3 separate regions of the Homo sapiens genome follow, and regions 1 and 2 are each linked to region 3. Evidence: fine-mapped expression QTL. A gene starts in region 3. Each other region holds a variant in brackets. All regions are shown on one strand. Distances are between the middles of the regions.

Region 1 (9,328 bases), 140 kb after region 3:
GTGCTGTGCATTATAACATGCCACACGTCCATTCTAAAATCCAAAAATTATGAAGTCTAAAACACATGTAGCCACAAGCTTTTGGGTAAGGGCCAGAATCCTAGCTTGAGAGCTGTGTGACCCTCAGGATTAGACACATCTTTCAGTGTGAGAAGGAGGAAAATGGAGTGTGGAGATAGGGGCACGGAAGCCTACTTGATATGCCCTCTAGAAGAAAGGCTCTCTAACCAAGGCACGCAGGAGGAAAAAGGCTGAATGGATTCCAAAGGGAGAGGGAAGATTCTAAATGCAGACCCAGGAATGTTTCCTCAGATTATTTTCTATCCCAGCCCCCTTTCCCAACCCCCAACTCAAACTGAGTTTAAAGAAAAGGGAATGACATAAAAGCAAGGGCTTTGTAGCACCCGAGTATCCATAACAAACTGGGAACACGGAGTCAACACTCCCTTGTGAACTGGTTACATAAATGAAGTATTCTACTTTAGCCAGAAAGCTGTTGGAGAACACTGGAACACAGATTAGGACCAAGAGAGATACTGCCTATGAGAAGACAAGAACCAGCAGTAGGAAAGGCCAACTGTGGCATAAGCAGCGAATTACCTGGATCACACCAAGGCAGTCAACAGGGAACTGGGTACTTACAGGGAAAAGAGCATGACAGTGGATGTCACCTGGCAGTGGGGGAATGTCTGAGATGCAATCGGGGACATCCCAAAGTAGCTTAGAGCATTGGGAGGGGACAAAGGTCCAGGTGTTCTGCAAGTTGGGGGTGAGCCAGAACAGTGGTGTTCTGTGACTGTTAGAATGCTAAGGTAGCTGCAGCTGCTGAAGCACAGGAACACCGGCAGTTTCCTAAAGAAGCAAGATCGAGAACATGCTTCTCTAATATCCCCTCTGAGTTACTCAAGGTTGGGGTAATCAAACTAAAATCCATCTATCTCTAAGAAACAGAATAACACACAGATCTCAAATAAGAAACAAATGATCTAACAAGGGACTAATTTAACAAGAGACAAGTCTACTGATTACTCATGACCTGGTCTGTGCCTGCCTTTCCATCCCCATCTCATGTCCCTCTCCCTCACCTCCATCTTTCAGTTCCCAAAATAGCCCCAAACTTCATTTTTCCACCTTAATGGCCTTCAGACTTGCTCCCTCTGCCTACAATGCTCAGTCTACTACATAGGCTCTTGACAGGGCTTGCTCCTTCAGGTTTTAGTTTAAATATCACTCCTCTAGAGCCTTTCCCAGACCACAAAAGCAAGTAGGCCTCCATCCCCATTATTCCTTATCACAGTTCTGGACTTTTCTTTCACAGAACTTCTTACCATTTTTCTTGATATATTTGTTTGCTTAGTGGTATGCAATCTATGCAGCCATCCCTGCTAAATCAAGAGCTCATGGAGGACAGGACTCAATTCTTCTGTTCAACAATATACACCAGGACTGTACCTGACACAAGGAGAGGTGATCAATACATTCTTCCTACATGAATGCTTCACCTGTGGCCATAAGGAAATCTCTGCCCATACATGCGTAACTCTTCCTCACTTCAGCCACAGCAACGGGAGGGCAAACAATAGGCACTTTGCCTCTCAGTTTTCTTACAGCACTGTCAATTTCCTCAAGCACCGCTTATCAGGCAGTACGATAAACTGAATTTTCTCTTCTCCCTATTCACCTCTGTCCCTAGGTGTCTTCTACAGTATGTGATTAGAAATGATGGAGGATACAGAACACTGACAGTGCTCAGGGTCAAGAACACACACAAGTACATGCACACAAATACCTAAATAAAAATAAAATCATTAAGAGCGTCCATAAACTATGATGCTTTGTGAATTCTTGGTACTGGAAATGCAAATGAAAAAACATCGTACTATTATTTATTACCAACTTGTGGCAGTTTCACTTTGCTAATGAATAAACCCTCTTCAGAATGGCTGCATCAGGATGGTTTTAGTAGAAGGAACAGTGGACCAGGACTAACTAGGGAGACCTAGATTCTGGACTCGGTCTTTTAATCAACTAACAGTACACCATGCAACTTTAGGCAAGCCACTTAACTTTTCATCAGTAAAAGAAACAAATAAATGCCTCCATCTCCCAAAAATCCTATTGCCTTTTTCAAGTCTAATAATCTATTATTTCTTTTCATTAAAATTGTATTGATTATGAGCCTAAACCTCATGGAACTTGGCTGCTTTGTTATACATACATTATTCGAATCTGTATTGACTCCACTTAACAATGGTTAGAGAAGATAAATGAATCATCAAAAAGCAGCACACAAAATTACCTAGAATGTAGTGCCCAAACAACCTCATTGGAGCAGCTGTTTTTAGGAAATAAAGGCTTTTCTACTTTATGCCAGTCATAGTATTAAAAGTTGAGGTAAACACTTGAGCACTAAGATTGCAATGAATGGGAACAGGCAGAAAGTGGAGTTAATTCCCTAAATTCAAGCAAAATGGGCACTCTTCATTATTACTGGGTACATCCTATAATTTTGTTTTTCTAAGTACTTTGAAGGTTCCTGGCCTGCCCTGCACTTTATGATGAAAACTGTCAACTAAATTATCAGATGAGGGGAGAAGGAAGGCACATTCCAATTACACAGGCTTCTCTTCTCAGAGGTACACAAAGTAGGAAAGCATTTTGCAAGGCATTACAAAATGCCTTACAAAAAGCATTCAGTAAGGCATTTTCAAAGGGTGGTAGCACAGCCCACTGAAATGAGCACAAAAATCACTGCCATCTAGTTGAAATAATCCCCGTGGATTCTTTGTCTAGGCTAGGATTCTTTATCAAGGCTGGGCTCCAGTTTACAAATGAAGAAATCAAGTCTAGAAAGGATAACTTTCTCAGGGTGCATGAATGGAGGGTCATATTCAACCTCATAGTCTGAGTAGAACACAGGCACAAAGGTGGCATAGTATACAATACAGTGAGTTTTGGAAAGTGAGTCACAGTACCCAGGTTCAGGTATAACTATGCTACCATTTAGCTGAACGGCAAGGCGGCATAGTATGGGTGGAAGAAAAACTCAACAAAGATCCTGGGTCAGCATTTTAGTTGCAATTATTCACATACACGCTATGCAACTTTGAGCCTGAGGTCCATCATCTGTATACTGGGGCTGAGTTATACTGGATTATTCAGAAGGACTCTTCCCGAGTCCATACTTCTATGTGATAACTGCTTATGTGCATGCTGACCCATCTTGTCATCAGTTACCACTGAGGGGGTTTAGCTGAATGCAGGATCAACTCTGACAAAGTTATGTGCAGATATATAGAAACCCCACTGAGTGAGGACAAAATGGCAGGGTGGAAAAAGGATGTTAAGTAAAAACAACCCAAAAACTGTCCTACTTCTAAACTTACCAGTAAGGCAAGTTAACACACCTAAAAATCAAGAGCGATTTGCTAAAGAGAACAATTCTTAAGAAGAAAGATCACAGGAGCAAAGGAGATTCAAAGATAACTGATGAAAAGAGAAAAATCTAAAGATGAGCAGAAACTCTATTGTAACTCTATTTTTAAAGAACTGTGGGCTTAGAAAGGAAATCCAGGAATAGCTGTAACCTACTTTGTGAAATCACAAACCTGACATTTTTGTATAGCCAAAGAGCCCCCCACCCCAAATGGACCTTTACACAGATAAACTGATAAAGAAAAATCAACCCATCCTTGATCAAAACCACGGGGGTACCATATTTGAGTCTGGTTGCTCTTATTGAAGAAGGGACATCAATAGACAGACAATGTGGCTGAGGGAGTTTGAATGCTAGTGCTACTGTTACATACACCAAGAAAGATGAGGACCCTCCAATCTTTAGAGATGAAGAACAGGTAAAAGCACAGTAGAAATTTATTAAATCACAGAAGATGCAAAATGATCACCAAATCCTAGAAGAATCCCTGAAGTCTGAAGGAGGTCCATGTTGAACATGAAAAGGAAGTGTGGTAAAATCATGACTAGCCAGAATGCTCAAGCTCAGTTAATCAAATTATTTGTTTAATCAAGGGTTGGACTTTTTGTTTCAAGGCCTCTTTCACACAGAAATCAGGCTCTTGAATTTAAGGACTCCAGATTACGAACTCTGGTTTTGTACCATTATATAAAATAAGAGACCAGAGTACTCCTGATCCAGAGATCAGTATAGAGCTTTCCAGTGTCTGGGTAAACAGAAGAATAAAATAAATTAGAAGACAGAACAGATGATCAATTAAATGTTTTCTAATAATTAAGAAGAATATGTCCATTCCAAGAGGAAAATAGTTCTCTATAGAAAACATTCAGCAGAATACGAAATGCAAGTAATTTTATTTTATATAAAAGCAGAGACACAACCTAAGTTTCATCTTAAATGTAGACTAGTGTATAGCTCCCTGGAGTCAGCCTCCTTGCCATGCACAGAGGCCCAGTGACAAGCAGAGAGGCTCTCCCCTCACTCCATCACCTTACATTTAAGGAAAGATGGAAAAGTCTAAAGAAGCAAAAAGAAGGTCCAAATGTATGTCAAAAATAAATTCTAGACAATAGGTTTTCCTAAAGTAAAGGCTGGACAGACAATATTTTGAATTCTTGCTGGTCCAAAGCTATATAATCTAAATCAGCGCTCTTGGGTTATTTAATAAATTGAGGACAGCAGACACTTGTACTTGTCTTGACAAAACAACAGTGATACATTATCATCTGAACATCAAATCTCACTGTAGAAGATGGGAGTCATAGAAAGGGTAGAAGAACTGGACTAAATTTATAATTTATACATAGTCTGAAAAGTACCTTTTAACTAAATAATCTCTAGTATCTTTATGATCTATGGTCATTTTTTCCCTTCTCAGAAAATCCAAATAATGAGCAGAACTATTACAATGAGCAGAACGAATACAATGGAGACTTCTGGTTGGTCAGGTGTTTACTAGATAAAATTTCTCTGCAGGAACTTAATAGCCAAACTTATAATACCATCATTTAGGGTTATCTTAAAGAACTCATTATCACAGACTCCAAATTTATGAAGGGTCAACAAACAGAAGTCATCAAAACAAGAAAAAATTAACTAATGAAGTAAGCTCAGACAAAATTTTTCATTACTCAAACATTCTTCCTTTTTAATAGGAGTCTATATCCCCAAGTCAGGGTGTCAAAGTCTTTCAGAGAGAATCACAGGCAAAGACACTGATAAATTGTCTGATAGAATTGTATCTGCTAACAACTAGAAAATAAAAACCTCGAAAAGGCAAG[G/T]CTTGGTGGCTCATGCCTGTAATCGCAGCATTTTGGGAGGCTGAGGCAGGAGGATCTCTTGATCCCAGGAGTTTGAGACCAGCCTGAGCAACATAGCGAGACCTTGCCTCTACAAAAAATGAAAAAATTAGCTGGGAGTGGTGGTGCGCACCTGTAGTCCCAGCTACTTTGGGAGGCTGAGACAGGAAGACTGCTTGAGCCCAGGAGTTCAAGGCTGCACTGAGCCATGACCATGCTACTGTACTCTACCCTGGGATACAAAGCAAGACCCTGTCACACACACACAGCCTGAAAAAGAAGACACATAGACAGGAATAAAAAAAGAAGAAGAAGAAGAAGAGAAAACTGACAAAGCTTTTTGTATATTTCTTAATGACCCTCTTTACTATAGAAGCTATTCATTGGCCTAGCCTACAATTTTACTGTAAAAACTGTTCCTCCTCCCAAAAAGGTTAACACTTCATTCTTTCTTGAAATAGCATATTAGTTACTACTATAACCTAACTTGTGTTAACTATAAACTTATTTTCATAATTTTAGTTTCATTTTATCCACTTAAAGTCCCAAAATAAACTTTTATTTACTATGAAATTTTGATTCCCATTTTAAATAGTGATCTATCATCCTGGGATAATAAAGACTTCTTGAACTAAATAGTAGTCTAACAAAATATAGTTTCACAAACATTTTTTATAAATTTGTGAATATATATGAATTTAACAAGAAAGTAGGACATTAGCATAATCTTTTAAAGCTACCAGAAATTAACATATATTCTCACAAAATATTCCGTGATATCAGTGAGAGAATAGATGGTCCCGACTTACAATGGTTTGACTTCGATTTTTTGACTTTATAATGGCATGAAAGCCATATGCGTTCATGAGAAACCATACTTTGAATACCCATAAAATCATTCTGGTTTTCACTTTCACTACAGTATTCAATAAATTACATGAGATATTCAACACCTTACTATAAAATAGGCTTTGTTATATGATTTTGCCCAACTATAGGCTAACATAAGTGTTCTGAGCATGTTTAAAGGAGGCTAGGCTAAAGCTATGATGTGTGGTAAGTTGGGTGTAGTAAAGCCTTTTTTTGGAGACAGAGTCTCACTCTGTTGCCTAGGCTGGAGTGCAGTGGCATGATCACGGCTCACTGCAGCCTCAACCTTCTGGGCTCAAGCGAGCCTCCTACATCAGCCTACTGAGTAGCTAGGATTACAGGCACACACCACCATGCCTGGCTAATTTTTTTAAAAATTTTTTGTAGAAACAGGGTCTCGCCATGTTGCCCAGGCTGGTCTCAAACTCCTGGCTCAAGCAATCCTCCTGCCTCGGCTTCCCAAAGTGCTGGGATTACAAGTGTGAGCCACCACACCCAGCCAAAGCATTTTGTACGTAACAATTTTTTCCACTTATGATGGGTTACTGGGATGTGGCCTCATCACAAGTCAAGGAGCATCTGCACTGGATTACCTTGAACATGGCTCAGACCAAGTGCAGATCCTATTTCAGTTAACAATATTTTTACAGGATTATTTCGTTATCTTCACTAAGACTTTTAAACATTAGATCTAGATAATCACTGCCATAATATCAAATGAATATTTCAAGAATAACTAATAAAGGGGATTAATGAGAGCTACATGACAATGAGGGCAATATTATCACGACACTGTTTTTTATTATAATTGGCTAAAATTTAATAAACTGATTGAGAATTAAATGGTTTACCCAGGGGTTGAATAGACATCCTTACCTGAATGAGACTATCTATATACACTTCACACTCCAAAAGAGTTGTTCACCAAACATGTACCCTTTTTTCCATTAAGCAAGACACTACTCCAGCCAGAGGAAAAGGGTAAAGACAGAAAAAAGAGAGTACTAGTATCTCCCTGGGAGAAATGTAAACAGTAGGTAAGTGGGCCAGACTGGAATGAAAAAGTTTATGAATAATTGGTTATGTTTTTGGGTTCTAGCACAGAAATGTTTTGGAAGTATCCCTCTAGAAGTATGTGTAGGTGGTACGTAGGTGTCATTGACAAGGTGGGGTGGGTGATAAGGCTGCATGCCTCTGAGGGATGGTGAGTGATAAGGGTCTGGCAGAGATGAGGGCAGAGCAGATTAATGTTTTGTTGGTTCAATAAAATAAGGGCAGATCAAATGTCTTCCACGTCTAGACTATTCATGAACTCCCAATACCACGTCCAGAAACAGTTTCTCTCACCTCAAAATGATCCAAGTTCCATGTCTCCATTCAGGCAATAACTGTTTTCTACTGTGTTTTATTGTTATTTATTTGCAGGTCTTAATTCTCCTAATAGGTCATATGCTTCTTGAAAGTATCCACACCTCAACTCTTACAGCACTTCACTCAGTGCTCAATGAATTTCAACGGATACACTAGATTTCCACTCTAAAGGTATCATTAACACAGGTAAAAATATATAATTGAAGCTAAGAATTGGTATGCACAAGACAGAGATTATAAAGAACATGGTATTTACTTAAAAAGAAAGTAATGGGGCTGGACAAGGTGGCTCACGCCTGTAATCCCAGTACTTTGGGAGGCCAAGGCAGGCGGATCACTTTGAGCTCAGCAGTTTGAGACCAGCCTGGGCAACATGGCGAAACCCTGTCTCTACAAATAAAATACAAAAAATTAGCTGGGCATGGTGGCGCACACCTGTAATCCCAGCTACTCAGGAGGCTGTGGCTGTAGAATCACTTGAGCCCGGGGAGTGGAGGTTGCAGTGAGCCAAGATTGCGCCACTGCACTCCAGCCTGGGTGACAGTGTGAGACCCTGTCTCATAAACAAAAAAAGGTGGCATACATGGCCTAGATTGTACTTTTTACAAAATTTGATGACAGTTATTATTTTTGGTGGTAACTGATGCTTGCCAATATGCCCTGAAAGATGAATGCACAGCCAGAAGCCTTTACATGCATGCGAAGGTTGTGCTTTGATCTACTGTTGCAACCATTCTTTTTAGGAAATCACCATTTGTCTCTCAGCCACCTGCTGACCCAAAGTCACTGCTCAAAGAGCTCATTTCCAATGGTATCACAGTGGGATAGCCTGGAGCTACTGCTTCCTGCTAGACCACAAATATCCCATTTGAAGCAAGATTTTTTTGTCCCCCCAGAACAAGCAAAAAGTTCTTTTTTACCTTCCACTTTTTACCTTCCCTTTAAGCCTGCCCATACAATGACTGCTAAAGTTCCCAGCTGATATGCATGTGTTTCATATAACTAGCACATCAGAGATGGATTACATCAAATACTACTACATCTATCCTGGAGCAAGTCCCTTTTTGTTATTTAATGTTTGCTAAGTCTTTGAGGTGAGGGTGATGAAACTGTTCATAAATATAGAGGCTGGTGTCTTACATCACTTAGGGGATGTGTGCTGATGAAGGTAAGCTATGACTGCTATTTCCACACTTCTAATTAGATATGAAGATTGATGCTGTGTTGGTACTTCTTACTCTTAGACCATAGTTTTTCAAATAGCAGGCTCTGACTTACTAGTAGTGAAATCAATCCATTTGATGTCACAATAGGCATTTACATGAACAGGAAAGAACAGAAAGTAGAGAGCTTCACATTCATAAGATGAAGTTCGTGACATTTTTGCTTCATTTACATATAGTGTTACATATGTGTGCGGACACTGGGTTAGGATATGAAATATATTTCTACTGTGGGTCTCAGTCCAAAAAGTCTGAAAAAAATGTTGTCTAGAGCACCTTAAAGGCCATACCTATTTTTGTTATCAGTTTCTCTATTTGGCTATCTTTGGATGGCCAACAGTCTAGATTTTAAAACTAATGAACTACTGAAATGCATTATTTTAAACTTTCTTGCCCAGCATGGGGTAATTTTACAACTCTGTCTGAAATGGTCTGGATGTGATGAAGGCCCCTAAGCATAGTATTTCTTCTTAAAAAGCTTTTATTCTCTCAATGCATTATTCTAAATATAAAATCAATCCCTCAATATATCCTTGTATTTCTAACTCTGACTAGGAGCTGGAGATCACCGTAACCAATACTGAAATCTT
Region 2 (11,164 bases), 81 kb before region 3:
AATCGGGGAAAGACACAGATGAGAAAAGAGCCTTTGTGGAGGTTGGAGTAAGCCTCAAACATGGTTAAAGCCCTGCCCCTGCAAAGGGGTCCAACTTTAATCGGATCAGACTGTAGAGCACTCTGTGGGCCAGGGCATTGTTATTGTTAAAAACAATAGAGCAATCGGCTAGCAATTAGTGAAGGCTAACAGCTGGGACTGCTTCAAATAGAGGCAGATGGGTCCGAAGCTTAAAGGAGAGATCAGGGAAAGAGACAGTCAAAGAGAGCCCAATTAAATCCACACCAGCCCTGGTGGTGGGAGAAACTGTATGCATGCCCAAGGCAGCACTCTGTGAAGAGTGACATCAGAGGCTGCACACTGAAGGGGAATAGACTTCACTAAACTAGTCCAGACAAGTCACTCAACAAATAAACAAAAAAGCAAATAACAACAAGCCCCAGAGGGGCATGGGAATAACTACCTAGGGTTACTACAATGTAAGATTACAGGACATGCAAAGAAAAAAGTATGACTCATACACGGGCGGGGGGTGGGGGGAGCGGAGGGGGGAAGCAGGCAATAAAAACTGCTTTTGAAGGGACTAGACGTCGACTTAGCAGACAAAGATTTCAAAGCAACTATTATAAATATGTTCAAAGAGACATATATAAAACACTCCACCCAATAAGAGTGAAATATATAGTCTTCTGAAGTGCACATGGAGCATTCTCCGGGATAAACCATATGCTAGGCCACAAAAAAAGCCTCAACAAATTTTAAAAGGATTTACCAAAAAAAGAAAAAAAGTTTTAAAGGAATTTAAATCAGGCAAAGCATGTGTTCGCTGACCACAATCAAATTAAATTTTAAATCAATAAGCGAAAGAAATATGGGGAATTCATAAATATGTAGAAATTAAACAACACACTACCAAATAACAGATAAGTTAAAGAAATCACAAGGATATTTAGACAATACTATTGAAAACAAAAGCACAACATAGCAAAACTATTTTTTTTAAGGCAGCAGCAATTGTTTAATAACATAGCAAACTTAAGGGATGGAGCTAAAGCAGTACTTAAAGGGAAATTTGTATCTTTGTTAAAAAATAAAAAAGATCTCAAGTCAATGATATTACCTTCTAAGGAAACTGAAAAAAAGAAGAGCAAACTAAACCCAAAACAAGCAGAAGGAAGGAAATGATAAAGATTATGAGGCAGGAAAATAAGGTCTGGAGGCAGGGAACATAAGGCCAGTTCACACTTCAGCTATGACAGGAAATATCCTCTCCATTGGGCTTATGCTGTAAATGACTTTGTAACTTTACTTCAAACTCTGCATTTACATAGGGTGTACCCCAAGTAACCAATGGAATCCTCTGGGGGTATTGAAACTCCCAGAAATTCTATAACAGGGCCTTTCAGCCCGTATGCTCGGGGCCACTCCCACACTGTGGAGTGTACTTTCATTTCAGTAAAACCCTTCATTCCTTCCTTGCTTTGTTTGTGCGTTTTGTCCAATTCATTGTTCAAGACGCCAAGAACCTGGACACCCTCCACTGTTAACAATTAGTGCAGAAATAAATGAAATAGAGAATAGACAACAATAGAGAAAAATCAATAAAACTAAAAGTTGGTTCTTCAAAAAGATCAATAACATTGACAAACCTTAGTGAGACTGACCAACAAAAAAAAGGAAATATTACTACCAAACTTTCAGGAGAAAAAAAAATAAAGAAGTACTACAAACAACTTTAGGTCAACAAATTAGATATATTAGATGAAATGAATTTCATGAAATAAATTTGTTTCAGGAAATGAAACAAATTCCAAGAAAGACACAACTACCAAGACACAAACTACTCAGGAAGAAACAAAAAACTTGAATACAACTATAGCAAGGAAAAATATTGAAATTAGTAATTTTAAAACTTCCTGCAAAGAAAAGCCCAGGCCCTGATGGCTTCACTGATGGATTCTATCAAACATTTGAAGAATTAAAATCAATCCTTCACAGACTTTTCTAAAACACAGAAGAGGAGACAATACTTTCCAATTCCTCTTATGAGGCCAAACTTATACCAAAACCAGACAAAGATATCACAACATAAGAAAACCATAGACCAATAGCTCTTATGAATATAGATGCAAAAATCCTCAAAAAATATTACCAAATGGAAACCAGCAACATAGAAGGTGGATTATACATCATGACCAAGTGGGATTTATCCCAGGAATGTCAGGTTGGTTTAACATCTCTGAAATCAATCAATATAATATACTGTATTAATAGAATAAAGGGAAAGAACACATCATTTCAATGTATTCAGAAAAAGCATTTGACAAAATCCAACACTCTTTCACAATAAAAACACTCAATAAACTAAGCATAGAAAGAAACTTCCTCAATGTAATAAAAGGCCACTACAAACAAATACACAGCTAATATCATACTTGATGAAAGACTGAATGCTTTCCCCAGTATCATGAACAAGACAAAGACATCTACTCTCTTCACTTTTATTCAACAGTGTACTGGAGGTTCTAGACAAGGCAATTAAGCAAAAAGAAAAAAAAGGAAAAGAAAAGGCAGACAGATTGGAAAGGAAGAAGTAAAATTATTCACAGATAACATAATCTTGTAGGTGGAAAATCTCAAGAAATCCACTAAAAACCATTAGAACTAATACGTTTATCAAAGTTCACAACACAATGTCAGTATATAAAAGTCAGTTGTATTTCTATACACTAGCAATGAACAATCCAAAATGTAATTAAGAAAACAATTCTATTTACAATAGCATCAAAAACACCTAGGAATAAATTTAACAAAACAAGAGCAAGACGTGTATACTGAAAGGTAAAAAACATTGTTGAAATTAAAGATCTAAATAAATGGAAAGACATCTCAAGACAGCCATAGTACCCAAATTGACCTACAGATTCAAGGCAACCCTACCAATATCCCAGCTGCTTTTTGGTAGATATTGACAAATCAATCCTAAAATTCATATGGAAATTCAAGGGGCCCAGAATAGCCAAAACGATCTGGAAAAAGAAGAAGAAAGTTGGAGAACTCACACTTCCCAATGTTAAAACTTCCCACAAAGCTACAGTAATCAAAATTGTACAGTACTGACATAAGGATAAACATAGAGATTGTGAAATATAATTAAGAGTCTAGAAATAAACCCTTTTATTATGGTTAACTGATTTTTTGATAAGGGTGTCAAGAAAATTTAACAAGGAAAGTATAGTCTTTTTAAGAAATGGTGCTGGTGGCCGGGCACAGTGGCTCACACCTGTAATCCCAGCAGTTTGGGAGGCCGAGGCGGGCAGATCACCTAAGGTCAGGAGTTTGAGACCAGCCTGGTCAACATGGTGAAATCTCATCTCTACTAAAAATACAAAAATTAGCCAGGCGTGGTAATGCATGCCTGTAATCCAAGCTACTACTCAGGAGGCAAAGGTTGCAGTGAGCCGAGATCGTGTCACTGCACTCCAGCCTGGGTAACAGAGCGAGACTCTGTCTCAAAAAAAAGAAAAAAAAAATTGGTGCTGGGATAACTAAATATCCACATAAAACAGAAAGAATTTGGAATCTCACCTCCCACCACACACAAAAATTAACTCAAAATGGATCAGACACCTAAATTTAAGAGCTAAATGTATAAAACTCTTAGAAGAAAACAAAGTAATAGATCTTTATGACTTTGGATTAGGCAATAGCTTAGATACAACACCAAAAACACGAGCAACCAAAGAGAAAAAATATATCATTTTGACTGGGCATCACCAAAATTAAAAACTGCTGTACTGCAAAGGACACCATCAAGAAAGGGGAAAAGACAACCCACAGAATGGGAGAGGGTATTTGCAAATAATATACCTGATAAAGGATTTGTATTTAGAATATATTCAAAAAACCTCCTACAATGCAATAATAAAAAGATAAATAACTCAGTTTTTAAGATGGGCAAAGGATCTGAATAGACAATTCTCCAAAGAAGATCTACAAATATCCAATAAACACATGAAAAGATGCTTGACATCATTAGTCATTAGGGAAATGCAAATCAAAACCACAATGAGATTCCATCTCATGCCCTCTGGGATGGCTATAATCAAAATGATAGACAATAACAAGTGTTAGAGAGGATGTGGAGAAATTGGAACGTTCATCCATTGCTACTGGAAATGTAAAATGGTGCAGCCACTTGGGAAAACAGTTTGGGACTTTCTTAAAATGTTAAACTTTTTTAGAATTAGTTTATGACTCAGCAGTTCCACTCCTAGGTACACACTTAAGAGAAATAAAAACATACATGCACAGAAAAACTTGTATGTGATGGCTCATAGAAGGATTATTCATAGTAGCCAAAAAGTGGAAACAACCCAAACGTCCATCAGCTTATGAATGAATAAATACAATGTGTATATCCATATAATGGAATATTATTCAGCAACAAATAGATGTTCAGTACTGATACATGCTACAACATGGATGAGCCTCCAGAACATTGTGCTGAGTGAAAGAAGCCAGACACAAAACATCACATATGTGTCCATTTCTACAACATGTTCAGAATAGGCAAATCTGTAAAGACAGATAGTAGATTGATGGTTGCCTAAGGCTGTTAGGTGGCACAGGGTGGCTACAGAAGGGAATGGGGAATGATGCTAATAGGTATGTAGTTTCTTTTTCAGATGATGAAAACGTTCTAAAATTAGATTGTGGTGCTAGTTGTACAACACTGTGAATATACCAAAAACCATTGAATTATACACTTTAAATGGGTGAGTTACATGGTATGTGAATTATATCTCAATAAAGCTGTTAAAAATATAGTGATGAATTCCAAGAGAATCATGTGGTCTCCTCGTAAAGGTAAAGTCACTTTTTATCTATATATTGTAAGGGACAACATGCACGCTAGTGTCATTGTTGCCACTGCAGTGAACACCCTGATTACCTACCTGTTCCCATTCATGCTCTGTTAAGTGTTCAGTAGGAGATCCATTTGTTTTGATTCTTCCATGTGCATTAAAAGTCACACCTACTTTATTGTGCTTCGAGTCAGTGTCATGGTCTCTGTTTGTTTCCGTTGGTGGTATCAGCACAGATTTCATCTATAAAACAAATTCATGCTTTAGTCCAACCCTCTGCTTATTCTGCCACATACAGAGACTTCAGTCCCAGGTGGGATTCTTTCTATGTTGTGGTGCCACAACCCAATGAAAAACACACGGTCACTTTTTGCATCTCGTCCACCTCCTATATCTCACTCATCCACTGATGTCTGTAAAGTGGGTCTGTTACATTGTTGGTACATTTTCCAATTACAGACATTGCCTATAAAGAAAGAGTTTCTGTGTTTCACTGGAGTTTCTCTATAGGTGTTAAACACATTCTGTGGCATCCACACAGAAAATGGAAGATACCAAGGTAGGGGCAACGAGTCTCCTTATTGAGCCTTTATCTAGCCATAGGATCTTCAGGAGTTCAGAAACACCTCTTAATAGAGTGGCTGCTGTGCATTTTGTTATGCTTTCCAGAAGAAAAGAGAAAAGGTACATCTGTGTCCAAGAAAGTTCTTAAAGGGGACATAGGTTGAAAACTTCAGAAGCCCTTCCAACCTAAATGCATTGTGGTTCTCAGCCTGACTCTGCCAGCCATTGACGATGTTCTCTAATCTTGGCAACAAAACTGCTGCGTTTCTTTGGAAAACAAAACGTCTTTCTGATAGGGCATCAATTACTAGAATCCCTCTTGTTCCCTTACACAAGCAGAGACTGTAATTTTATACTTGTTTCTTTGTAGCACCATGTCTTTAAACAAAACAATATTAAACAATACTTCTGTTATACTGGTGGCCGTGGTTCAGTGATAGACAAATTCTCTGTGGTAGGCACTTAAGTTTCCTTTTTTTTTTTTTTTTTTTTTTTGAGACAGAGTCTTGCTCTGTCCCCCAGGCTGGAGTGCAGTGGCGCGATCTCGGCTCACTGCAAGCTCCGCCTCCCGGGTTCACGCCATTCTCCTGCCTCAGCACTGACTACAGGCGCCCGCCACCACGCCCGGCTAATTTTTTCTATTTTTTAGAAGAGACGGGGTGTCACCGTGTTAGCCAGGATGGTCTTGATCTCCTGACCTCGTGATCCGCCCGCCTTGGCCTCCCAAAGTGCTCGGATTACAGGCGTGAGCCACTGCACCCGGCCAAGCACTTAGTTTCTTTTACAAACTAGAGTGTGTAGGAAATCTTACCTTTATTTTTCAAAAATGAAATTGAATCTTATTCTGAGGTCCTGTCTCATTGAGCTAGGTAGAAATTCAAGCTCAGCTATTGCTAGCTAG[T/A]TCACAGCCTACCTGCCCTGTCTCCTGCCAGCAAATGTTCCCATTAGGGGCAGAGCAGAATATTCTGGGAGGACCCTCTGGACTTGGGTCCACACAACTCACTTCTTTTTCCCTTTTTCTTTCTTTCTTTTTTTTTTTTTTTGTAAAGATGGGGTCTTGCTATGTTACCCAGGCTGGTCTCGAACTTCTGGTCTCAAGTGATCGTCTCACTTCGGCCTCCCAATGTACTGGGACTATAGGCATGAGCCACCGTGCCCAGCTGTACACAACTCATTTCTGATGAGCTCATTGAGCAAGGCCACATGGTCTCTTAAGTATGTGTGGCTCTGAAGTTTTCAAGGCCATTTGGGATCAGGATACTTTGCCCCAGCTCTCCCTAAGGCACTACACGACCATTTTCCCCCAGGGAGTCTAGTAGCCATCTTTCTGCAAATGCCTTGCTGGGGAGTTTGACAAATAATAAACCAGAATCTTAGTTTTAGAAAATCTTCCTTCATTCTTTAATCCCTCTGCATTGACCCCCCTCAACCTGCCCACCTTACAAAATACCTTAAATGAACCTAGAATAGAGGTTGTCATCAAATTCCCCCAACCCTTCCCAACCCCTGTTAACAATGATACCATTACGACCGCAGGTGTAAACCAGGAAGTATGGTCCCTCCTGCCACAGAGGGTTGGAGGGTCCTATGGGATGGGAAAGTGGGGATTATAAAACTGGACTGGAACAATCTACTTTTATGTCTCATCTGATAGAGTTCCAAATGGTTGAACCTATCATTTTCACTACAGTTCAATGATATTTAATACAACAAGTATGTGTTACCAGTTCAACCTCACTCAAGGAAGGGTAGAAGACACAAACAATATACAAGTTGAATTTCTATCTTTAAAGCCAGTCTAAAGAGCAGGTAGAACAGTTATCCCTGAAGGGGGTGAAACTTTAGGTATCCTGAGAAAATGGCTGGCCCACAAACTCTCCCCAGGGTCTGTATTGGTGACTGAAACACAAACCTCAGAACCAAGTATAAGGAAAAAAGAAGAGAGAACTGGAGGAGAAAGCTATATGTTTAGTAGTATATGCCATTTTCTTTTCTTTTCTTTTTTTTTTTTTTTTTTTTGAGATAGTGTTTCACTGTCACCCAGGCTGGAGTGCAGTGGCTTGATCTTGGCTCACTGCAGCCTCTGCCTCCTGGGTTCAAGTGATCCTCCTGCCTCAGCCTCCCAAGTAGCTGGGATTACAGGTGTGCACCACCATGCCCAGCTATTTTTTTGTATTTTAGTAAGGACAGGGTTTCACCTTTTTGGCCAGGCTGGTCTTGAATTCCTACCCTCAAGTGATCCGCCCACCTCAGCCTCCCAAAAGTGCTAGGATTACAGGCGTGAGCCACTGCGCCTGGCCACCATTTTCTTCATATAGGTAATTACATTTAATCCTCCCAAAAATCCAATATGGTAGGTATTTTTATCTTCAGTTTATACGTGTGGAAACCAAGGATTAGAAAACCTCAGTATGTTGCCCAGTCACCCAGGAAGGGGCAGAGGCAGGATGTTAACCTAGTTCTGTCTGTCTAATCTTAGAGCCTCACAGTCTTTACTATGTTAAGGTGGCCCTCAACTTGGGATCTCCACAGAGCTAGTGAGGGACATCCCAGAGGCATCTTCTCAATATCTCAAAAAGCCCTCGATAGAGCTGGCTGCTCAGGCTAACCTCAGGAAAGCAAAAGTGTTCAATCTGGTCAATTGGAAGAGGCTGCCATGACTGATTAGCACTGTAGTCATAGGGCAGGTGGTGATGGAATGTGGCATTCATGCCCTGTGTTCACCAATATTTGACTGACAAAGACATCATGTTCCCTTGTGCTCTTGGTTAGAATCTAATCCACTCATTATGTTAATAATGACTATTATATCTTGATCAAAATGTCTTATTGGCTTGATTACTCACTGATATAATGAGAAAGGTACCTTAAACTTAGAGTGGGCTTAAGTTTTATTGCAACTGGGTTTTGTTGTGTTTGAGACAAGGTCTCTCTCTGTCATGCAGGCTGGAGTGCAGTGGTGCGATCATAGCTCACTGCAATCTCAAACTCCTGGGTTCCAGCAATCCTCATGCTTCAGCCTCCCAAGTAGCTGGGACCACAGGTGTGCACCACCACACCTGGCTAATTTTTTCTTTTTTGTAGAGATGACATCTTGCTATGTTGACCAGACTGGTCTCAAACTCCTGGTCCCAAGTGATCTGCCCACCTCAACCTCCCAAAGTGCTGGAATTACAGGGGTGAGCTACCATGCCTGGCTGCAACTGGGATTTTTTTTTTTTAGAGTAAAAGGAGGTGCTATTAATAATTACAATAGGACAACAGGTGTAAGCCAGGAAGCATCATCATCAGTTGGTGAGGTGGGGAAGGGTGGTATGTAAAATCACCACAGAATCAGGAGAGGGCTGTAAAAAACTTTCTATTCAGTTTTGTCTTAGGTTTACCCTGCTTTGATCTTAAATCCCTCAAGAGATAGTCAGTGACTATTAAGTACTTACTACATCCCAGGTGCTGGGGTTTTATCAATGGACTAGAAAAACAGAGGAAGATAGTAAACAAACAGTACCACAATTTCTTACTTAAATTCGGTAACTGTGATGAAAGATATGTACAAAGGGCTTGACAGTATACAAAAGGGGATCTCATCTGGTCTGGAGGTCAGACTTATTAAACTTTAATTAAAAAGATGGGAGGATACCAGCAACGACATTCTCATTCACATGTGTATAAAGGGTCCAAGAAGTCAAGGTGCCACTGGGGTCACATTTCTGTCTCTATCAGATTAAATTCCAGCTCTAGACCCCACCTGTCCAGGTTGGTTGGAAGTTGATGATCAGTCCTGAGGGGTAACAGTTCAGGTTTCCCACTAGGACCATATAGCATCATCTGGCTCCACTGCTGTTACTGGTCTTCAACCCATGTGGCGCCCCTACACCTCTAGCCTGAGGGCTTCCTCTTGGCTTGAGTAGAGGAGGAAGACAACTCCAATGACCCTGCAAGACCCGTCCAAGGAACCCTTCACTAGGCGTGAGATCTTCACAGTCACCACATAGCCACTTGTCTCAGAGGTTCCATACTAGCTCCTGCTCTGCTTGTATTTAACATGATTATTTAAACATTTCAAAAAAATATTTCCAAAAAAAGTATCCTAAGTTATTTGATGTGTATTATGTGGGAAATCGTATCAATTCAGAAATAAACTGCACTTATATAAGTGACTCCACTTATATAAGGTACCTAGAGTGGTGAAATTCGTAGACAGAAGGTAGAATGGTGGTTGGTGGTTGCCAGGGGCTGGGACAGGGGAGAATGGGGAGTTAGTGTTTAATGGGTCCAGAGTTTCGGTCTGGGATGATGGAAAATTCTGTAAATAGATGGTAGTGATGGTGATGGTTGCACAACAATGTGAATATACTTAATACCTCTGAACTATACACTTAAAAATGGTTACAGTGGCAAGTTTTATGTTATGTATATTTTACCACAATATAAATGAATGAATTGAGGTTTTAATTTTAAAAATCAGGATTTTTCACTTTTAGAAACTACATAAAATGCCAACATTTCCTCATTTTTCCACCCTCAACATGAATTTAAAATTTTTTTCCATATATAGAAGTTACCCACTTAGTTCTTTATCATGCAGTCATAGATTTTTCTTAAAATTTATACTTTTATATACTCTAATAAAATCTATAATCTTTTTAGAGTTACAACCACTAAAACACAAATCAATTCAAAATAATAAATGAAGAGGTATGTATTCCCTTCTAAATCCCTGAGAGAAGATTCATGCCAACATTACTTCTTACCTTGTTCCTCTCTACACGGTGGAGTAAATTCAAGTCTGTGGTCTCTGATATCCCACCATGGATGACCAGGATTTCATTGTCAACGATTGTACCGATTGGGAGCCAGGCATAGAATTCTTCCAAGATTTGTAAGATTCTTTTTCCATGTAGCTGTAAGTAAGAGCTTGAGTAAGTTTTGTTTTTCTGACAGGTTCAGTTTATTGAATAGTCCCCAAGTATGGACAAAAAGTAATGATTTTCAGGCCACTCAAAGGAAGTCAGCAAGGAGTCACTAACCAATTAGCATGTATTCATCATGTCTTTTTATTCTGTTTTTGTTTTTGTTTTTTTTTTGAGATGGAGTCTCGCTCTGTTGCGCATTGGAGTGCAGTGGCGCCACCTTGGCTCACTGCAACCTCTGCCTCCCAGGTTCAAGCGATTCTCCTGCCTCAGCCTCCCAAGTAGCTGGGACTAAAGGCGTGTGCCACCACGACTGGCTAATTTTTGTATTTTCAGTAGAGACGGGGTTTCTCCATGTTGGCCAGGCTGGTCTCGAACTCCTGACCTCAGGTGATCCGCCCACCTTGGCCTCCCAAAGTGCTAGGATTACAGATGTGAGCCACTATGCCTGGCCCTTTATTCTGTATTTTTGATACTATGACATCTTGGGGCCTTGCTGACTCTGGAGGAGAGACTGTCCCTCCCGGGGCTAGCTAATTCCTAGATAGTCAATGACTCGCCCTTCATATGCAAACCAAGCAACCGAGAGCCCACACCCCAGCTACCTTCTTTATGGAGCTCTCACACTCCTCATCCCGGGGCCAGTTACCAGACAACTAGGGACAACCTCTGTGGCCCAGAGCAGTCTGAAATTACTCAAATTGGTCAGTCCTAAACCAGATTACACTCAGATGCTTCCCTCCACCCTCCCTCTGCCTTCTTTTTTTTTTTTTTTTTTGAGATGGAGTCTCACTCTGTTGCCCAGGCTGGAGTGCAGTGGCA
Region 3 (11,164 bases):
AAATTTTATGCACACAATGTTTGTCTATGAATAAATATAAGTAAACATCACTGCATCAGCTTTCAGCAGATTTATTATTATGAACTCATAATAAACCTTGATTGGCATATCCAACAAGAGATAAAAGAAGAAAAAGAATTTTAAATGGCTCTTCTGGACGCACTCCATATGGGTTTGCCCTGCTCCATAAGGAGCAATGGAGCAGTAAAGAAAAAAAAAAAAAAAAAAGAATTTTAAGGGAATACTCTGAACAAGTATATGTCAACAAATTAGATAATGTAGATGAAATGGGCAAATTCCTAGAACTACCACAAATGACTCAAGAAGGAATAGAAAATCTAAATAGTCATATAACAAGAGACAGAATAAGTAATCAAAAAAACTACGCACAAAGAAAACCTCATGCCCAGATAGCTTCACTGATGAATTCTACCAAATATTTAAAGAATTAATACCAATTCTTCATGAACTCTTCCAAAAAATGGAGGAGAAGGGAACACTTTCCAACTCATTCTATGAGGCCAATATTACCCTGACAGTTAAATCAGACAAAGATATCACAAGAAAACTATAGATCAGTATCTCTTATGAATATAGTTGCAAGATTCCTCTACAAAATACCAGCAAACTGAATTCAGCAGCATATAAAAAGCATTATACACCATGATCAAGGGGATTTATCCTAGGAATGCGAAGTTGGCTTAACATCAATTAACATAATGTGCCATTTAATTAACATTATATGCCATATCATAAAATAAAGGACAAAAACCACAAGATCATCTCAATACATGCAGAGAAAGCATTTGACAAAATTAAACACCACTTTGTAATAATAAAAAAATCAATAAACTAGGAATAGGAGTGTGTTTTCTCAACCTGAGAAAGAGCATCTATGAAAAAGACACAGCTGATATAAGACTTACTGGTGAAACACTGAATGTTTCTCCCTTAAGATCAGGAACAAGACAAGGATGGCTACTCTTGCATTTCTATTTGACATTGTAGTGGAGGCAAGAAAATGAAACAAAAGGCATTGGAAAGAAACAAGTAAAACTATATTTGCAGATGACCTGGTTTGTAAATAAAAATTCCTAAAATATCCACTAAAAACCTATTAGAGCTAATGAGTTCAGTAAAGTTTTGGGATATAAGACCAATATACAAAAATCAATTTTTAAACATTTGCAATAAACAATCCAAAAATGAAATTAACAAAAATCCATGTATAATATCATCAAAAAGAATAAAAAACCTAGGTTAAATTTAAGGAAAGAAGTGTAAAACTTATACTCTGAACACTACAAGACACTGGTGAAAGAAATTAAAGATCTAAATAGATGGAAAGACATCCCATGTTCATGGATCAGATTATTTAATTGTTAATATAGCAATACTCCCCAAATTGATCTACAGATTCAACACAACCCCTCTCAACATTCCACTTGGCTTCTTTTGAGACACTGACACATTGATTCTAAAATTCATATGGAAATGTAAGGGACCCAGAATAGCCAAAATAATCTTGAAAAAGAGAAACAAAGTTGAAGAATTCATACTTCCCAATTTCAAAACTTTATTAAAAAAAGCTATAGTAGGCCTGGCGTGGTGGCTTATGCCTGTAATCCCAGCACTTTGGGAGGCCAAGGCGGGCGGATCACAAGGTCAGGAGTTCAGACCAGCCTGGCCAACATGGTGAAACCCCGTCTCTACCAAAAATACAAAAATTAGCCAGATGTGGTGGTTTGTGCCTGTAATCCCAGCTACTCCGGAGGCTGAGGCAGGAGAGTCACTTGAACCTGGGAGGCGGAGGTTGCAGTGAGCTGAGATTGTGCCATTGCACTCCAGCCTGGGCTACAAGAGTAAGACTCCGTCTCAAAAAAAAAAAAAAAAAGCTATAGTAATCCAGACACTGGTACTGGCATAAGAAAGACATACAGATCACTGGAATAGAATTGAGAGCCCAGAAATAAACATTTATGGTCAATTGATTTTTGACAATGGTGCTAAGAGGATTCAATGGGGAAAGAACAATCTTTTCAACAAACAGTGCTGAGACAACTGGATATCCACATGCAAAAAATGAATTTGTACTCCTACCTCACACCATACGTGAAAATCAGCAACTCAAAATGGTTCAAATGCCTAAAAGTAAGAGCTAAAAGTACAAAACTTTTTTTGGCCTTTAAAAACATATATATTTAGGGGGTATAAGTGTAATTTTGTTACATGTATAATGAAGTCTGGGCTTTTAGCGTAACCATTACCCAAGTAGCATACATTGTACTCATTAGGTAATTTCTCATACCTCACCCCCCTCCCACCCTCCCAGCTTTCTGAGTCTCCAGTGTCTATTATTGTATTCTGGATGCCCATATGTATACATTATTTAGCTCCCACTTTTAAGTGAGAACATGGGGTATTTGACTTTCTGTTTTTTGAGTAATTTCACTTAGGATAATGGCTTCTTGTTCCATCCATGTTGCTGCAAAAGACATGATTTCATTCTTTTTTATGGCTGAGTAGTATTCCATGGCATGCATATATATATATATACACACACACACACATATATATACATATATATATGCACACACATACATACATATATACGTATATATACACACACATACACACACACACATATATACACACACACACACTTACATATACATACACCACACATTTTCTTTACCCAATCATCCATTGAAAAACACTTACGGTGATTCCATATCTTTGCTATTGTAAATAGTGCTGCGGTAAACATAAGAGTGTAGATATCTATTTGATATAATGACTTCCTTTGGGTAGACTCCGTGGTGGGATTGCTGGATGAAATGGTAGTTTGGTAGCTCTATTTTTAGTTCTTTGAGAAATCTCCATAATGTTTTCCACAGAGGTTGTACTAATTTACATTCCCACCAGCAGTGATAAACATTCCCTTTTCCCTACATCCTTGCCTACATCTCTTATTTTTTGACTTTTTAGTAATAGCCATTCTGACCGGTATGTAAGGTGGTATCTCATTATGGTTTCAATTTGCATTTACCTGATGATTAGTGATGTTGAGCATTTTTTTCGTGTGTTTGTTAGCCATTTGTATGCCTTCTTTTGAAAAAATGTCTGTTCATGACCTTTGCCCACTTTTTAATGGAGTTATCTTTTTTTTCTTGTTGAGTTGTTACAAAACTCTTAAAGTAAGACGTGAGCAAAAATCTTTTTGGACTCGGGAATGGATTCTTAGATATGACACCAAAATCACAAGCAACCAAAGAAAAAATAAAGTGAACTTCATCAAAAGTAAAAACTTTTGTGCTTCAAAGAACACCATTAAGAAAGGATGAAGAGAATTCAACAAATGAGAGAAAATATTTGCAAGTCACATATTTGATAGGAAACTTGTATCTAGAATATATAAATTTATCTTACAACAATATAAAAATAAATAATTCAATTAAAAATGGGTAAATGATCTGAATAGACATTTCTCCAAAGCAGATATACAAATAGCCAATAAACACATGAAAAGATGCTCAATGTCATTAGTCACTACTGAAATACAAATGAAAACCATGGTGTGATACCACTTCATACCCACTAGGATGACTAAAATCAAAAGGACAGACAATAACAACTATCGCTGAAAATGTGGAGAAATTGAAACCTTTATACACTGCTGGTAGGAATGTAGAATGGTGCAGTCACTTGGGAAAACAGCTTGGAAATTTCTCAAAATGTTAAACATAAAGCTACCGTATGACCCAGCAATTCCACTTCTAGGTATATACCCAAGAGAACGGAAAACATATGTTCACAGCAGCATTGTTCATAACAGTCAAAAAGCTGAAACAGGTCGGGCACAGTGGCTCACGCCTGTAATCCTAGCGCTTTGGGAGGCCGAGGCGGGCAGATCACCTGAGGTCAGGAGTTCGAGACCAGCCTGGCCAACATGGTGAAACCCTGTCTCTACCAAAAATACAAAAATTAGCTAGGTGTGGTGGTGTGTGCCTGTAATCCCAGCTACTCCAGAGGCTGAGGCAGGAGAATCGCTTGAACCTGGGAGGCGGAGGTTGCAGCGAGCCGAGATCGCCCCACTGCACTCCAGCCTGGGTGACAGAGCAAGACTGTCTCAAAAAAAACAAAAAACAAAAAACAAAGCTGAAACAATCCAAATGTCTATCAATTGATGAATGGATAAATACAATGTGGCATATTCATACAATGAAATATTATTCCACAATAAAAAGGAATATAGTACTGATACATGCTACAACATGGACAAAGCCAGACACAAAAGGTCACATAATATATGACTCCATTTACATGAAATGTCCAGAATAGATAAATCCATAGAGACTGAATATAGATTTGTGGTTGCCAGGGGCTGAGAGGAGAAAGTGCTTAATGGATAAGGGGTTTTACTTTGGAGTGTTGGAAATGTCTCAGAAGTACATAGGGGTTGTGGTTGCACGACACTGTGAACATACCAACTGCTGCTGAGTTGTTCACTTGACAATGGCTAATTTTATGTTACGTGAATTTCACCTCAATAAATCACAGGTATTTGAAAGAAAAAGCAATCCAAAAATCTAAGCTAATATTTCCACTTACATGCAATGTTTTAAAAGTTGAAAAGTATTTCAAAAAGAGAGAGGATTTGTTTTTACAAGTTGGACTTGGCTTTTTTTTTTTTAACCTAGGAAATTTGGCTAAATTTAAAGAACTGTGAGTAATCCTAGATATAAAAAGATAATTTCTCTTTACTCTCTGCTAATAAACGTCTACTACAGCAGTAGAGTTCAGATGGAGCTTTTGAAAGATTTATTTCATGACATGCTTAAAGATTTGAAAGAGTCAGTACACCTCCTATGTCCCTTCCTACTTTCAGAGATGAGTTTCCTACATCATCAGCACAAGTCAGCTGGGTAGGAGAATAACATTTGATTCCCAAAGTAAAACATCCCACGCTAATTAGTATAGCACACTCTGCATCCTAAACCCTCCACCTTAAGCCTGAATAAACTTCCAAAGGCAAGACGTGGAATAGAAGTTGGGGGAATTACCTATAACCTAGACATCAAAGAAGTGGAGTTTAAGAGCAAATTACTCATATTAATTGTCCCAGCTTATTTACTTGTTTTTATTTTAATTTGCTTGTTGGAAACTCTATCCCTTAAATGCTCAAGTTTGTTTCAACTAGATGCCAATAGCCATGAGAAAGAACCTCAGTACAAAATAAACAAAGTGAATATTTAAGCTTCTAATTATATGGGGGTACAGAAAGGCATGCCATCTATTTAGAAACAATACACCTTTTTTTTGGAAACAGATGATCTAGCATTCTCCCAATTCTCCTAGATTATTTTTAAAACGTGATGCAAATCTCATGAAGTTCTGTGTTGAATAGATATAGAAATAATGTGATCATTGAGTTATAAAATCCAATAAAAATTCAATGATGCTACTAAATGTCACAAAAGTAGGGATATAGCTATTTATAAAAGTATTGAAGAAACACATATAAATTACACTGCCTTTCTTGTTCCCTGCCACTGAGTTTTAAATTGAGATTTTATATTGGTACATTATCGAATGAAATTAAATCAAACACAAAATATCTCTAAGACAATACTTTATGGTACTTCATAAATTCAAAGCTACATCTTCCTAAATGTAGTTTCCTATGCTACTCTAACGATGCCTTGTGCAAATCACACAGGGCAGCTTGAGCATCGTGGGAGTAAATGAGAAAGGAGAAGAGGGTGAGGGCAGCTCATTTTCCCCTTTTCATTCATAACCACAGGCACATTCCCAGTACTCACATGTGTCAGATCTCCTGGTTTTCGTTGAAGAACTGCTGCATCCCATGACTTCTATCTAAATCATATGTGTTCATGAATTCAACTTCTGATTTTAAGACAGAGTGTGAAAAGTGCCTCCCTTTAAGCTGCGAGGAACCACTCTTAGCCGATCCTCTTCAGTCATAGATTCTAATGAGGAATACACAGGAGGGAGGGAAGGAAACCGCCAGTTAACCACATGGTAGCTGAGGGGCTGCTCAGCAGGATTCATTTTACGCTTCTTCTGAATCGCTGTTCATCATGTGATGTGGAAAGTGATCAGACATAATCTAATCCTGGCTTATTTTCCAAAACACAGCAGCAGCTACAGAGCAGCTATAGGCTGCTTCTCTGCTAGACATAAATGAGTTTCTCCATGTCTAGGTCACATCCAGCTCTGTATAAAATAGAGCATTCAAAATGAAAAGAAAAATCGAAATATGAGAGTGTACGATTTTCTAATTTAAATATGGGGAATGGGATGTGGAGGAGCTGACATAATTAACTGTTTTGGTTTTCAGCTCAAAGTAATTCAACCTATCTAGGCTTTTAAAAACACAAATTGGAAGTTGACTATGAGACAAAAACAACATATTTAACAGCTATGCTGAAATTCAAAGTGAGTTCTTTGACAGTATTTCGCGGAATAAGTTGGGAACATTTGTTTTAAAAAAAAGGAGGCAGCCGGTCGCAGTGGCTCACGCCTGCAATCCCAGCACTTTGGGAGGCCGAGGCGGGCGGATTACGAGGTCAGGAGTTCGAGACCAGCCTGGCCAACATGGTGAAACCCCGTCTCTACTAAAAGTACAAAAATTAGCCAAGCATGGTGGCACATGTCTGTAATCCCAGCTACTCAGGAGGCTGAGGCAGCAGAATCGCTTGAACCCAGGAGGCGGAGGTTGCAGTGAGCTGAGATCGCACCACTGTACTCTAGCCTGGGCGACAAAGCGAGACTCCATCTCAAAAAAAAAAAAAAAAAAAAAAAAAAAAGGAGGTTTGAAACCTCCCCCCAAATTTAGGAATTGTAATCTGTGAGAGTGTCCTTTTATTTATTTTATTTTTTGAGACGGAGTCTCGCTCTATTACCCAGGCTGGAGTGCAGTGGTGTGATCACAGCTCACTGCAGCCTCAACCTCCCAGGCTCAGGTGATCCTCCCGCCTCAGCCTCCCTAGTAGCTGGGACTACAGGCATGCGCCACCACACCTGGCTAATTTTTTGTATTTTTAGTAGAGACGGGGTTTTGCTGTGTTGGCCAGGATGGTCTCGAACTCCTGACCTCAGGTGATCCACCTGCCTCGGCCTCCCAAAGTGCTGGGATGACAGGCGTGAGCCACCGTGCCTGGCCAAGAGTGCCCTTTTAAACAAGCTCTCTGGGCACTGCTGAGGCCCCTCTGGAGTCTAACTTTGTGTTCTATAGTCCTTCTCATGAGCTCCCTGACTCCCATAATCACTTCACGGGAGTTTTCAACAAAATTCCTTTCCATAGTATACTGTCACGTCACTTTTTAGGGTGATGTTTCCTTTATTTTGTGATGCTCCAAACCAACCTGATCTAATATATTTGCATTCCTTTTTTTTTTTTTTTTTTTTCAGACAGGGTCTCACTCTGTCACCCAGGATGGAGTGTAGTGGCACAATCACGGCTCGCTGCAGCCTTAACCTCCCAAGCATGTGCCGTGACACCCGGCTAATTTTATTTTTTTGTAGAGACAGGGTCTCCCTATGTTGCCGAGGCTGGTCTCAAACTCCTGGGCTCAAGTGATCCTCCGACCTTGTCCTCCCAAAGTGCTGGGATCACAGGTGTGAGCCATCTTGCCCAGCCCTATTTGCATTTCTTGACAGGCACAAAGTCAGCAAACAACTGACATATCTATCTTTCCATTGGTACTACACCAAAAGCTTCAAAATTTCAACTCGACTGAAGAAAGGGAAAACTAAAATAAGCAAAATATTTGAACTATGGCCATGTTTTGAAAATAACAATAAGCTTAGTAAACAGATTTTCTGACCAGAGGTGAACCTGATTATTTTATGTATTGAATGAATTAGCCTTCCTAAACTTTGGGTTACTTCCAAATTTTTATTTATTTTTTGAGACAAGGTCTCGCTCTGTCACCCAGGCTGGAGTGCAGTGGCGCAACCATGACTCACTGCAGCCTCCACCTCCCGGGCTCAAGTGATTCTCCTACCTCAGCCTCCTGAGCAGCTGGAACTACAGGCATGCGCCACCATGCCCAGCTAATTTTTGTACTTTTTTGTAGACATGGGGTCTCACCATGTTGCCCAAGTTGGTCTCAAACTCCTGGCCTCAAGCAACGTGCCCACCTCAGCCTCCCAAAGTGCTGGGATGACAGGCATCAGCCACCGTGCTTGGCTTTATTTCCAAATTCGATAGGCATTTCTTTCGTGTCTTCCTTATCTACATCATGGCTAAAGAACATTAACAAGATCAGATCCAAGGGCAGGATGAGCCCTGTGGCATCCCACTCCAAACCATCCTCCAGGTTCACCACAGATCCGTTACCTTCATACTCGCTGAGCACATTTGTTCAGTTAGCTGGTAAACTCACCTATCATAACTCTCATTTATCTGTGAGACATCCTGGAGAATTTTACTAAATATTTTAATAAAATGATGATATGTATATATTTTGATACTTTGACATTCCAGCTTATTCCAGCAAAAGAAGAGAGAGGGAAGGAGGAGGAGAAAAGGAAGGAAGGGCAGGGGAGGAAGAAAGGAAGGAAATCAATTTGGCAACATTTTTAATACAAAATCATAGAAGTTTAAAGGTGAGAGAGACCTTTAAAATTACCTAGTATTTACACAAAGTGCAAGGAAGTTAAGCAACTTGTCCCATGTCATATAGACCTGTGCTTGTCATACTTCGTTGCATATGAGTGTCACCTGGGGAGCTTTTCAAACTCCCAGTACTCAGCCTGCACCTCATTAAGTCAGAATCTCTTGGGGTTTAAAAAATACTGATGCCCAAGTCCCACCCCCAGATAATTTGACATAATTGGTACTGGGTGGAGGATGAGGCATCAAGATTTTTTTCAGTTTTCCAGATTCTAATACACAACAAAGTTTGACAATCTGTAATAGAGACGGTATTTTAGAAAACCCACGGTGCTGCATAGTGATGATCACATTTTCCTAGAAATGCTTTGGCTCCATCTATTTCAAGCTGAATTTTTCCAGAGGTCATATCAAGTCTGTGGCTTCTAGCATATATTCTTTTCTCATTTTTGAAATTGGGGCACTGTTCATCTAGGAATTCATCTAGTCCTGGTGACATTCTCCAGGTGCCTAGATCAGTGCTCTCCAACTCGAGTGCTCACAAGACTTATTGGGGGTGGGGGGATGCAGATTCCCAGGCTTTACTAACAATACTCAGATTCAAAAGTCCAGTGCCTTGGAATACACATTTAAAGTGCACCATGCCGAGAACTTTGATGCAAGGAATCCCCATATCTCAGTTGAAGAAACACTATTTTCCAACAGTATCCAAATCTCGCTTGGGCTTCGCTCCATCCTCATGCTATTTTTTCCACCCCTTTTTATGAAGACATAAGAATTGGGGCTGGGCACAGTGGCTCTCATTCGTAATCCTAGCACTTTGGGAGGCTGAGGCAGATGGATCCTTTGAGCCCAGGAGTTCGAGACCAGCCTGGGCAACATAGGGAGACCCCATCTCTACCAAAAAATACAAAAAATTAGCCAGGCATGGTGGTGCACATCTGTAGTCCCAGCTCCTCAGGAGGCTGAGGTGGGAGGATCACCTGAGCCTGGGAGGTCAAGGATGCAGCGAGCCGTGATCACACCACTGCACTCCAGCCTGGGTGACAGAGTGAAATCCTGACTTTAAAAAAAAAAAAAAAAAAAGGTATGTTTTTTAATTTAAAAAAGAAAACAGGGGAAAAAAAGAATTGAGCATTTAGTAGGCCATAAACACTGATTGGACTGATTGACATATTTCAATTTCGATTTTCTTTTTCCAGAAAAAAAAAAGCACTGTCTCAATATCTCTCCAGAGGCATTTGGTTTTCAGTCACCCCTCAGTTAATCCACAACAAACACAACTGCATATAAAAGATTCAGTAAGAACTAAAAAGCATCAAACTTGAGTATATTTCTGTTAGACTATTAGCCCCACGGGCAACTTCCAAAGTAGCCCTTGAATCTCTGGCACCTACATGGTGCCTTTCACATTGCAGATGTTGGATAATGCTAAATGAATGAATGAATGAACAAAGGAATCAATATTCCTAGGCCAGAGTTCTTTAAAAATTTAGTTGCTAAAAGTCATTATTAATCCATCATTTTGTGCACAGGTAGGTGCTATTCAATTATACAAAAGCATTTTATTAAATCAGAAAGGGGTAGTACTTATACATAATTTTTAAAGAAAGTTTTAAAATCATGATGGAAAGACATGATGTTCTAGAATTTTTTGATTATCCATTAGAAAAAATTGGCTATAATAATTTTTACATTATTAAATAATTATTATCAGTTTATTTTTAACTGTTTTTCTCTCAGGTAATAGGTTACAAAAAAAGTCAGTTCTTTTTCATTCTCACCAAAATATGAGCTGGTTAAAGCAAGATGCCACTTACCCCTCCCATGTACTGCCCCACCTAGACTTCCAGGAGAGAGGGAAGTGAGTTTGTAAGCAGTGCGTGAGCCTTTGAGGACATCTCTGACGTAAAGCTGATAAAAATGATTGGGGATTTTCCATGACTTGGTAAAATCTAAGCTGCTTCCATTTCCCACCCTCTGTTAGCGTTTAAGTGCATTGAAGAAGTCTCTGAAGAAGTGATTCCCTGAGGCCTGAAAAGGGTTCTCAGGCTCAAAGAGGTGGGGGGCTTCCACAGGGTTCACAAACGCCCAAGAATGTCCTAGTGGGTAACATGAGCCGCTGGGTGGATCTTGGCAAAAAAACAGCTTGAAACTTGCCCATTGCTGCTGTCCCTTCTAATATATACCAAGGATGGTTTTAAAGAGTAAACATGAAATAATGACTCATCATTGGCACTCACTTATAATTTGCAAAAGGAAAGCCTTCCGCTAAAAGGTTTTTACTGTGTGTGTGTTGGGGGTGACTGGGTGGAACTGATAATTTTCCATTTTTTTCATGCTAATCTTTCACTTCCAATGCTGAAAATACAAGGAAAGTACAAAAGACAGGCCGTGGGGACAAACTAACGTTCGCCACCAAGCACCCTCCAACCACTAGCCCAGCCTCCCCGAGTTGTTCTTGTTCATTCTTAAGGTGGTCTGATTTCTAAGCTCATCTCTATCCAACTTCCACACCTTGGC

Alleles and levels. Alleles are on the strand shown, and positions count from the first base shown. SD is a standard deviation of normalised expression in the study named.
As copies of G replace T in region 1, the expression in testis of the gene that starts at base 6,004 in region 3 goes down (small effect, 0.32 SD a copy in GTEx).
With allele T in place of A in region 2, the expression in spleen of the gene that starts at base 6,004 in region 3 is higher (small effect, 0.29 SD a copy in GTEx).

The links. PIP is the estimated chance that this variant, and not a neighbour inherited with it, causes the effect. A credible set is the group of variants that fine-mapping cannot tell apart.
Region 1: its variant is the best candidate, but not a certain one, in a credible set for the expression of PPEF1 in testis (GTEx, PIP 0.61).
Region 2: its variant is the best candidate, but not a certain one, in a credible set for the expression of PPEF1 in spleen (GTEx, PIP 0.88).

The regions. Positions count from the first base shown.
Region 1 is chrX:18,564,917-18,574,244 of GRCh38, reverse strand. All of the region lies in intron 4 of CDKL5 (cyclin dependent kinase like 5), which reads right to left. Among named protein-coding and RNA genes, the nearest start is that of RS1, 100 kb to the left of the region's middle. RefSeq lists an enhancer at 7,994-8,556. The variant G/T (reference allele first, on the strand shown) is at 5,257.
Region 2 is chrX:18,783,068-18,794,231 of GRCh38, reverse strand. PPEF1 (protein phosphatase with EF-hand domain 1) reads right to left here. Exons shown (of 16, transcript NM_001377996.1): 9 at 10,184-10,333; 10 at 4,959-5,111. Among named protein-coding and RNA genes, the nearest start is that of PPEF1, 81 kb to the right of the region's middle. RefSeq lists an enhancer at 1-465. The variant T/A (reference allele first, on the strand shown) is at 6,334.
Region 3 is chrX:18,702,485-18,713,648 of GRCh38, reverse strand. It overlaps PPEF1 (protein phosphatase with EF-hand domain 1), which reads right to left and starts at 6,004. Exons shown (of 16, transcript NM_001377996.1): 1 at 5,823-6,004. The coding sequence starts at 5,868.